Linked DNA regions of Homo sapiens: region 2 is linked to region 1. A link means that fine-mapping ties the variant in region 1 to the plasma level of a protein whose gene starts in the linked region. Region 1 holds a variant in brackets. A gene starts in the other region. All regions are shown on their forward strands.

Region 1 (5,376 bases):
TCTGTCTTATTCACTGTGTTACTTAATTAACAAGCAAAACAATATACACAAACAATCTAACACATCCTGATAACTGAAAAACATTAAATAATCTAAGAATAAAATTACCTTCCATTATTGTTTCAACAACTGGGGGAGGCCGGGCGCAGTGGCTCACACCTGTAATCCCGGCACTTTGGGAGGCTGAGGCAGGTGGATTATCTGAGGTCAGGAACTCAAGACCAGCCTTGCCAACATGGTGAAATCCCCTCTCAAATAAAAATACAAAAATTAGCCGGGCGTGGTGGCACATGCCTGTAATCCCAGCTACTCAGGAGGCTGAGGCAGGAGAATCGCTTGAACCCAGGAAGCAGAGGTTGCAGTAAGCCAATATCACGACAATGCACTCCAGCCTGAGTGACACAGTGAGACTCTGTCTCAAAAACAAAAAACAAAACAAAAAAAAAAACTGGGGAGAAAAAACATGCAATCTCTATTGGTACTGTCACCATACAATATAATTATAGAGCTTCATGTCTTTTTATTTTTCACCATTCTGCTCATCCATCACCATTTTTCAACACTCCTCCTCTATATGTCCTTCAGTAGTTTCTAATGCTATTTCAACAAGACCTGGGTAACAGATTTTTTTATATAATCAAAATATTTCATTGATCCAGGTTTCTAGAATCAGACTGGTTGTATAGAAGTAACTAATTTTCTTTGGCATAAGGGTACCACATACCTCTAACCCCCTTCCAGTAAAACTGTAAGAATGCTCTTCCCTCCAGCTATTCACATGGCTGCCCCTTTCTTGTTAGTTACCAACTTAAATGTCACCTCCTGAAAGAAGCCTTCTCAAACTACCCCCTCTACAGCAGCTCCCCAACTATTATGTCTACCCGTTTTAATACTTAAGTAACTAATATTTAGTACATCAGTTAGACAATTAACTAAAATCTAGAAATCAAGTTCCACCTCTTAAGGTTAACTCACTTAGGTGAGTCATTTTGTTCTTCCAATTTCAGACTTCTTGTTGTTGTTTACATTATTATTAGAAAGGGAAATCCTATACCACGTATTGAATATTTTCTCCCTAAAAAGTTGAGTCAAATGAGGTGGCAAGAGGGGGTAGGCCATGACAACCCAAACACAGTGAAGCTAGAGTTTTTTTTGTTTTGTTTTGTTTTGTTTTGTTTTTAGGAAACTGAGGTGGGAAGGCAACTCTAAATTCACACAGAACAACTGCCAGATTAATCCGGTCATATAATCATCTAGGATCATTGTTTCAAAACAATTACCATTCACACAAGAACTAATATCAGCATTAATTGCTTGGGTTCAAATTCCGGCTCCATCACTTCTCAGCTCTGTGGCCTTAATCCTGTGACTTCAGCTCTCTGTGTTTCAATTTCAACATCTATGAAATGAAGATGAAAATAGTACCTTCTCAAAAGAAAAAAAATAGTATCTTTTCATAAGGTTGTGGAAATTAAGTAATATTCCATACAGATCGCATAGCTTAAAACAGTGCCTGGTATGTTATTAAGTGTTTAATAACTGCTAGCTAATATAATTATTTCCTCATATTCCAGCATACACTAGAGTAGTAAAGGAGAAAAAAAAGGCCAGTCGCAGTGGCCCACACCTGCAATCCCAGCACTCTGGGAGGCCAAGGTGAGTCCAGGAATTTGAGACCAGCCTGGACAACATGGCGAAATCTCGTCTCTACAGAAAGTTTTAAAAATTAGGCAGGTGTGGTGGCTCATGCCTACAGTTCCAGTTACTTGGGAGCTGAGGTGGGAGGATCACTTAAGCCCAGGAAGTCGAGGCTGCAGTGAGCCAGGATCATGCCACTGGACTCCAGCCTGAGTGACAGAGCGAGACCCTGTCTTAAAACACCACCACCACCACCACACTCTTCATATGAAGTTTTACCCCTTCAGTGCCTTTACCCCTTGAGTCCCTCTAGAGAAAGGGATAAAAGGCTTGGTCATGAAGCCATGAACAACTAGATCCAACCTAGACACACCAAAAAATCCAAACAACTCAGGTAGAAAAGGATCTTAGGGCTCTAGTCCCATGCTGTCCAAGAGAACTTTGTACAATGATGAAGATGTCCTATGTCATG[C/T]TGTCCAATATTGCAGCCATTAGGCACATGTGGCAGCTAAGCACTTGAAATACGATTAGTATGGCTGAGGAACTGAAATATTTAAATTTTAATCAACATAATTTTAAATTTAAAGAACCATGTGTGGAAGTAGCCACAATACTGGACAGTGCCCATTCCCATCTTCTCGAGTTCTCCAGACAGTAAGCCACCCCCTTCCACGGCATTCATATCACCTCTGACTTATGCACCAAGAATGCTTCCTGACAGGAAACTCAAGTCTCTCCCAACGATCTACCCGTTGCTCATAAACTTATCCCTTTCTGGAGGCCACAAAACAATTGTATTCCCCTTCAAAAGACTATCAGTGGAGGAGAGGGGAGTATAGCTGAAACAACGTTGGCCATTTACTGATAACTGCTAAAGCTGAGTGACAGGTACATAAGATTCATCCAGCTGTTCTCTTTCTAAATACGTTGAAATTTTACATTTTAAAAACCTTATTAGCGTTTACTTTAAGCTCATTTCATTTTCTAACTGAAACATATTCTTCCAAATGTGTTTCCTTACTTTCAGTGAGGACCCCCTCCAATTCTTCTATCACACTGTGAACCAAATTTTTTCTACATACACCATGTGTATAGCAATCCCTGTACTTTAGCACAAACTCTTCCCGCCTGGAACTTCCTCCTCTCTTCATGGCCTTACTGAAAACTGCTTATCTTCCTTGAAGATCCATCTCAACTCTCATTATTTTGAAGCCCTTTTTCTTCACTGCCCACCCATGGCAGTCCCCTCCCAGTGCTACCAATTTAAACTATCTGCATGCCTGCCTTCTCTACTACACTGGGTAACCTGGAAGCAGAGATAATGTTTCATTCATCTTTGTCTCTGTCCTAGTCTGACAGCATCAAATGTGTAATGAATTAATGAATATACAAACTTAATGAAACGCTAAACTGTAGCCATTCATACTGTACTACCCCAAGCCCATCAATACCACTTTTCAACCTTAACTTGCTGGTGTAGTTTCTACTGGTTTCCAAACATGCTAATAAGAACAGCTAAAAGTTACTGAGCACTTATTACTTGCCAGGCATTGCTTTAAGCGTGTTACATGTTTAATTCATTTAATCCTCTTCCATCCCCTTTTTACAGGGGAAGAAACTTAAGCATAAGTGAAAATAACTTGCCTTACATCACGAAGTATGAAGGAGCAGGGATGCGAATACTAATTGTAAAGTCCCTGCTCCTGTGTACAACAAGGAAGACAAATCATAATCTCAAATGCAAGCTTCAAATCCCAAAATTCAGATTTGGGAAAGGGGATTAGGATGCCAAATAGGAATACTGACCTGTAAAAAGAAAAAGTAACTTTAGGCATTCTCCACAAAACAGTGTGAGGGAAAATGGTAATCTTTTTATTCTTGTAATTTATAGTAAGCTACTACTGAATAAGAAAGCTAACTTGTACTAGACAAAGTTAAGTTCTACAGGAAGTTTTTAATTATTAGAATTAGTTTCATGGAAAATTTGGGCTAGATCTTAAAGGGTAAGTATGAGGATCTCGAATGGCAGAACAATGATGGAGGAGCAAGCAAGAGGCAGACACTGGGCACTGGACCTCCACAAGCAGTGAGGAAGGAGACCATCTTGATTTAAATGGAGGTCATATTTTTGAAGAGTTAATGGGAAACATGATCAGAAAGGTAAAATGGAGTTCTATTAGGGGTCAGCAAATGCCCATGGCCTATTTTCACATGGCTTAAAGCTCAGAATATTTTTTACACTGTAAAGAGCTTTTAGGTCAGGCACGGTGGCTCACACCTGTAATCCCAGCACTTTGGGAGGCAGAGGTGGGCAGATCACCTGAGATCAGGAGACCAGCCTGGCCAATGTGGCGAAACCCCATCTTTACTAAAAATACAAAAATTAGCTGGGCGTGGCAGCATGTGCCTGTAATCCCAGTTACTCGGGAAGCTGAGACAGGAGAATCGCCTGAACCCAGGAGGCAGAGGTTGCAGTGAGCCAAGATTGCACCACTGCACTCCAGCCTGAGCAACACAGCAAGACTCTGTCTCAAAAAAAAAAAAAAAGGGGCTTTTAAAATATGTAAAGAAAACGTGCAAACATACACAAAAAAATGGGACTGTATATGGACTGCAAAGCCTAAAATATTTACTATCGGGCTGGGCACGGTGGTTCACACTGGTAATCCCAGCACTTTGGGAGGCCGCAGCAGGTGGATCACCTGAGGTCAGGAGTTCGAGACCAGCCTGACCAAAATGGTGAAACCCCCATCTCTACTAAATACAAAGAAATTAGCCGAGCGTGGTGGCACATGCCTATAACCCCAGCTACTTGAGAGGCTGAGGCAGGAGAATCACTTGAACCTGGGAGGCAGAGGTTGCAGTGAGCCAAGATGGCACCATTGCACTCCAGCCTGGGTGACAAGAGCAAAACTCCATCTCAAAAAAAAAAAACAAATTTACTATCTGGCCCTTTACGAAGTTTGACAGGCCTTGGATTAGGTCATAGAAAGCTTTGAAGGTAGACTCCCTCAGGCTTGGGAATAGGGTGATTTTTAAGCAGAGGGGTAACCCAACACAAGTAGAGTTGAAGTCTAACAGCAAAAGGTAGGCTAGGTTAAACCCATGGATAAAATTAATGTATCGCAGTAATTAAGAATAAAATGTACAACCTCCTGATATTGTTTGGCCCAAATAAATAACAGCATAGCCAAGAATTTGCCTAAAGTCACAGAGGAAAGGAATTATTCTCTCAACTATTATATTCCTTCCCTCTGGAAGACTAACATGTACTGCTGAAGTCTTGTTCAGTGTCCTTCTAGCCCCAGACTTTGCAGCCTACCAACATGGACTGAGACAGGGAAAGCGTGGGCAAGTGAGTTCCATACTCTAATTTTCCTACAGAAGCATCCTAAGTGGTGTGTGGGTTCTCAGATCAAGTCACAAACACATTCACAGCCCATGATATCGTACAACACTACTTTTTAGTTCAAATTAATTATGAGTAACAACAGACTATCTGCCAAAATAGGGAGCTGCAGAAAACTAACCATCATTTATGATGTTGTTTCCAAATTTCAAAATTTTAAAAAAAAAAAAATTATAAACAAACTTTTTGATTGAAACTCACTGATAGAGAACTGCCAGGACTAAAGCATGGTTGATTGAAGAAATTTTATTGCTGACAATAATCACCGGATTGTTTTCTTCATTATTGTTATTATTTTTATTTATTTATTTATTTATTTTTTGAGACGG
Region 2 (5,376 bases), not on the chromosome of region 1:
TGATCACTAAATAATTCCTGCCTTTGGTCCCTAGACCAAAGAGCTTCACACATTCCAAAGAGAAGCTGGATATTGACATTTATAACCACAGACAAATGGATAGGGAAATAGCTTGGGAAAACAAGAAGGATGAAGATGGCAGCATTTATAATTTCAGGGGAACCGTCCATAGATCACATATTAAGCATTTTGTAGAGTCTCTACCATGTGTTCGGAATGTACAGGTAGGTGCAGCAAGAGAGAATCAGAAGTCTAGGTTTGTTAGTTCAAAAACAGGTCCTGAAGTGACAGTTGAGTCCATGGCAATGTCCAGGGAGTCAGAAAGTCTTCACGCACGATTGGGTGGTGTTGGCTGGTGAAAACCTCAGGAGTCCCTGATGGATTGGTTTACTTCAAGCTGTTAGCTCTCCAAGCAGGCAAAAATGTAAACTAAGCACCTGGCATCTCTCCAAGGACACAGAGGGGCTCCTTCAGTGTTTGGGTAATAGAGGCCACCTGCACAAGCCTAGCCGTGCACATGTGACGAGGTGCATGCCATCACCAGCATCATGAAGCGGACACTCTTGCCAAACAATTGACCCAAATGGCTGGGGGTTCAAAATTCCAGTGCTTCCCCAAACAAGGCCACAAGTCTGCTCTGAGGGTGAGAGAAAATCGATCAGAGTAGCTGCTAGGAGTAAGGAAGGATACAGGATAACAAAACCTGTGGGGACCTAGCACAGGGGGAACAGAGTTAAACCTGGTGCTTTTTGCTTTGGGTCAGTGATAAAGGGCAGTGATTGCAGAGATTGCAAGAATTAGGGAAATCCTGAAATTTGTGAAGGAGATAAAAACAGGACTGAAGCAGATGTCGATGGGAACCAAGAGGTTAGTGATTGAAAAGTTAGTGCATTTTCACTGTAGTTAGTTGCTGCAGTGAACTTTTCCACCTTGGATTGTGGGGCAGGCAGAATAAATTATCAAGGCAATAAAGGATCTTATTTTAAAGGATTCTTTTGGTAGTTCCTAGCACACAGGGTCAAAGGAGAATAGAGAAGTGTGACTCAGAGCAGGGTTCATTTCCAGGTCCTTGCTGTAGATAGGATGATGCCATTCACACTCTGAGAAATCTCTTCCCATCGCTCTCCGAAGGAAGTCTAAACCAGATGGTAACTTAGCTTAGCTGCAAAGAAAATAAGAGCCACCAACAATTTAATGTTTTTCAAACTGCCTGGACAATCTTTTCCTTCCTCATACAGGCACGATAACAGAAGTGGCCGGTGGAGGGTGGCCCATTGAGTGCCCATGATGCAGTCCAACCAAGAAACAAAGTTCTCTGCACACCCCTCGCCCAGGCAAAAAGAGAAAGTAAAAGCAACCGGTTGCTGCCAAGGGGTGTGGTGTGGTGGGGCTGGCACTACCCTGAACATCAATGAAGGCTGTCTGTTTCTGGTCCTGCTTCCGCAGTGAGAGGCAGCAGGTCCCCAAGCAGGCGACCTGCCCTTCACCGTGAGGCTGTCAGCCTTGGGGGAGCGGGGTCATTTGGAGCTGATAAACCAATGAGAAGAAAGGTTTGTTGCTCTAGGCGGTGGGTGAGGGCATCATAGCTGACTCTTGGTCTTGGTCACTTTCGGAGGAGATGGTTTATTTAACCTGACTTCCTTCCTGATGCGCACCGTAGGCGCAGTGAAATCCGGGAATCGTGGGGAATCCTTGGCGCTGTGGGTGGAGGCTCCTCTTGGCCCTGTGGCCAAGGTGACCAAGGGCCGAAGGAAAAGCGAGAACGGGAGGGACGGGACGCAAGAGGGCAGATGGGGAACCCCATACTCCAGCAACATTATATAAGAGAGGCGACGATGGAGCAGCGCACCCGGCCAAAAAAGCCTCCGTGCGCCTACTCTACGGTGCACCGCGTCCCCTCTGCACCAGAAGGGCCCTGTCCTCCCACATCCACCGCGCCCTCCTCCGGGCCCCCGAGGGCACTGGGGCGCTTCCTCTGCCAGACCTCCCCTGCGACTCACTCTTCCGGCTCCAGAGCCCCCCCGCCCCAACAGCAAAGCAGCCGTGACCTGCCCCAGGGGCGCAGCCCTGCCCCAGGCTGGAAGGCAGCAGAGCTGTGGCGTCGAGGCACCCAGCGGACTGCGGGGCTGGCGTGCCCGCGGTTACCTGCGCGGCCAGAGGGCTCCGCGAGATCGAAGAACCAGAAGAGCAGCATGAGGAGCCCCGCCGGGCGGCGAGGGGTCGCCCAGCCTGTCCTCATCCTGAGCTGGCGCAAGCCTTCCGGCCGGGTCCTCGGGCGCACGCGGCTCCCGCCCCGCCTGCTGAGCGCGGCCTGCCCCGCCCGCACCTCTGTCTAGGCCTCTGGGGGCGCCCCGGCCCCGCCCCCGCCGCCCTCGGCCAATCAGACGTGCGTCTCCTCGGCCCCGGGGCGGAGCGGGCCAGGTGTGGGAAATGAACAGGGCTGGGCGCTAGATACCTGCGTGGGGTAGGACCCGCGAGGAAGAGGTACGTGCGGATCGGTGGGAGAGCCAGGCACCAGACAGGCTCCTGCACTGGAGGGTTCGGTCCCCGCCTCTTCATCAGCCAAGCTGGGGAGATGCGGCCCTTACTGGGACTTGGCACCGCCCTGGTGGGTGGGTTCTATCAGTTTAGAACCTTGGCCTCTGCCTGGCGCACTGTGGTCAGGGACGACTTCTCCATTCCAGCCTGGACTGGAAAGGGACCCATGATCTCTTCTACCCCGGAGGAGGAAGTGAGCACCTGCCCTGTGGGTGGCTGCGGCCAAGCCTAAGAATTCAGTCGTCCTTGGCAACGTCTTGGGTATTTTGACAGTGCAAACAAAGGTGGAATAATGGTACACTGCAGTTCTACCCATAGTTGTTAAAGAATTAAAAGCAAGAATTACTAGAATGACCAAACGACACTTCCAAGGATGACTTATGCTTTATAAAAAGTTGACCTTTGCGAGTAAGCTCTTTGCTTAATAATTTAATGATAATAATAATTAGCTGGTAGAAATGTAGAAGTCTGCATGCAGAACCAGAAATTTCATGTCCCACTCACTCTCTTCCTGTGGACACTGCTATCATTATAAAGAGGCCAAATTCTTAATGACCTAAGTTGCTCAAATGTGAATGTTTTATACTTTTAAATCTCGTCTTTGCTGAGCACATAATGTGTACTTGAGGTGGCCTCCATCCTTGTTGCATGAGGATGCAAAGACCTAGGTTGCTCTTCCTGACTCCCACTGCCAAGGTTTCACAGTTGGCTCCCAAACCTGCTCTGTCCTCTCCCCAGGGTCTGGCCTTTCAGTTCCATAGATATAGTGAGCACCTGCCATCACAGGATCTGGGCACGCCATGGAACAGAAGGACAAAAAGACAACATCTCTGCCCTCCCCTGAATACTGGGGAGACTGAGGCACTGTGATGGATAATATTGTCAGCTCGATTGATATGAACGAATGCAAAGTATTGTTCCTGGGTGTGTCTGTGAGGGTGTTGCCAAGGAGATTAACAGTGGACTGGGAGAGGCGGACCAGCCCTCAGTCTGGGTGGGCACCATCTCATCAGCTGCCAGCATGGCTAGAATAAAAGCAGGCAGAAGTTGGAAGGACTTGACTGGCTGAGTCTCCTGGCCTTCACCTTTCTCCCGTGCTAGATGCTTCCTACCCTCGAACATCGGACTCCAGGTTCTTCAGCTTTTGGACTCTTAGACCTATAAAAGTGGTTTGTCAGGGGATCTCTGGCCTTCGGCCACAGACTGAAGGCTGCACTGTTGGCTTCCCTACTTCTGAGGTTTTGGAACTCGGACTGGCTTCTTTGTTCCTCAGCTTGCAGACAGCCTATTGTGGGACTTCACCTTGTGATCATATGAGTCAATACTCCTTAATAAACTCCCTTTCATATATACATGTATCCTATTAGTCCTGTCCCTCTAGAGAACCCTAATACAGGCACACTCAGTGACACAGGGCAGAATGAATGGGGAAACTCTGACAAATGTTGAGGGAAGGCAACATCTTAGCTGGGTCTTAAAGAATGGGTAGGAATTTGAGCAGGCACAGCTGGTGGGAGAAAACCAGTGACAGGGCAGAGGCCAGAAAATGCAAGCAGAGTCAGAAGACAGTCCAGAGTCCAGGGTAGCTGCCCTGCGGGGGGTGTGTCTGTGAGAGAGATCAAAGTGGTTGTGGTGGGGGCCCCAGTGGAAATGACAGCAGAAAGGTGAGTTGTGTCTGTTTTGTGAAGGGCCTTGAATTTATTCTAAGGCACAGATGGTGGGAAGTTCTGAGTAGGAGAACCTGCCACTGACCTGATCCCCTCTGCCTCTGTGGCTGCCTGCCTTTCTTTCTGATCCTGCCCAGCTTGGAGCTCCTTGAGGGCAGTGGTCTTGCCGTATTCATTATCACATCCTCAACACTGGGCACAGGGCCTGTCCCAAAGTCAGCTCTCAATAAATGTTAGTTTAATCGATGGATGGATTCCTAGGGCCACCACCTTAGCCTAGGGCCATATGAGCTCCTACTTGCATTATATTGCAATAATTTATCAATTGACCTCACTGCCAACAGTTATTATCCTCTCTGGCAAATGAATCCTTCTAAACACTGTTTGGAACATGCCACTTTTCTACTCAAATCCTTTCAGTGCTATTTGCATATAGCAGGAGCTCCTAAATGCTACTTAAGGGAAATTATGAAACCCTGAAATTTTATGCAGCTTTATAAATGCACTATGTTTTGAGGAGGAGGAGGAAGGGTACAAGGCTTTCATGAGAATCCCAGAGAAGCCCATGATACAAAAAGAAAACTCTAAGACAAAAAGCAAGTACCTCTACAATTTGACCCTTTCTCTTTCTTTGAGATGGAGTTTCACTCTTGTTGCCCAGGCTGGAGTGCAATGGCGCGATCTCAGCTCACTGCAACCTCCGCCTCCTGGGTTCAAACGATTCTCCTGCCTCATCCTCCTGAGTAGCTGGGATTACGGGCATGCATCACCACGGCCAGGCTAATTTTGTATTTTTATTAGAGACAGGGTTTCTCCATGTTGGTCAGGCTGGTCTCGAACTCCTGACCTCAGGTGATCCGCCCGCCTCAGCCTCCAAAAGTGCTGGAATTACAGTTGTGAACCACCGTGCCTGGCCTAATCTGACCCTTTCTCTTTACTCCCTTCATATGTCACTCTTTGGTTCAAGCTACCTGTCTGAACCTGTCTTGCCTTTTCTTATCTCTGCCCATATATGCATATCCAGAATGCCATTTTCCCTTTGTCTTAGTTCCAACCTTTCTTGAAGTTTCTGTTTAGATCTGACATTTTACGTAAAACACTTCTACCAAGGGGTTAACCTTCTTCCAAATATCTACCTAATAGTGTGAATTCCTTTCACTTGGTATTTAAC

Which allele goes with the higher level. Positions count from the first base shown, and alleles are read on the strand shown. Strength reflects both the effect of a copy and how common the allele is.
For the plasma level of the protein whose gene starts at base 2,313 in region 2, allele T in region 1 goes with a lower level than allele C (weak association).

The links. A credible set is the group of variants that fine-mapping cannot tell apart. PIP is the chance, under the fine-mapping model, that this variant and not a neighbour inherited with it causes the effect. Protein levels are from antibody-based Olink assays in UK Biobank. Linkage for the fine-mapping came from a reference panel and not from the study's own genotypes, which makes the PIPs less certain.
Region 2: LY75 starts here. The variant in region 1 is the best candidate, but not a certain one, in a credible set for the plasma level of the LY75 protein (UK Biobank, PIP 0.52).

Annotation. Positions count from the first base shown.
Region 1 is chr12:111,567,842-111,573,217 of GRCh38, forward strand. All of the region lies in intron 1 of ATXN2 (ataxin 2), which reads right to left. Among named protein-coding and RNA genes, the nearest start is that of ATXN2, 29 kb to the right of the region's middle. RefSeq lists a silencer at 2,726-2,923. The variant C/T (reference allele first, on the strand shown) is at 2,111.
Region 2 is chr2:159,902,444-159,907,819 of GRCh38, forward strand. It overlaps LY75 (lymphocyte antigen 75), which reads right to left and starts at 2,313. Exons shown (of 35, transcript NM_002349.4): 1 at 2,146-2,313. The coding sequence starts at 2,239. It overlaps LY75-CD302 (LY75-CD302 readthrough), which reads right to left and starts at 2,313. Exons shown (of 38, transcript NM_001198760.1): 1 at 2,146-2,313. The coding sequence starts at 2,239. RefSeq lists enhancers at 1,225-1,274, 1,325-1,374, 1,595-1,644, 1,785-1,864 and silencers at 2,045-2,504, 2,274-2,515.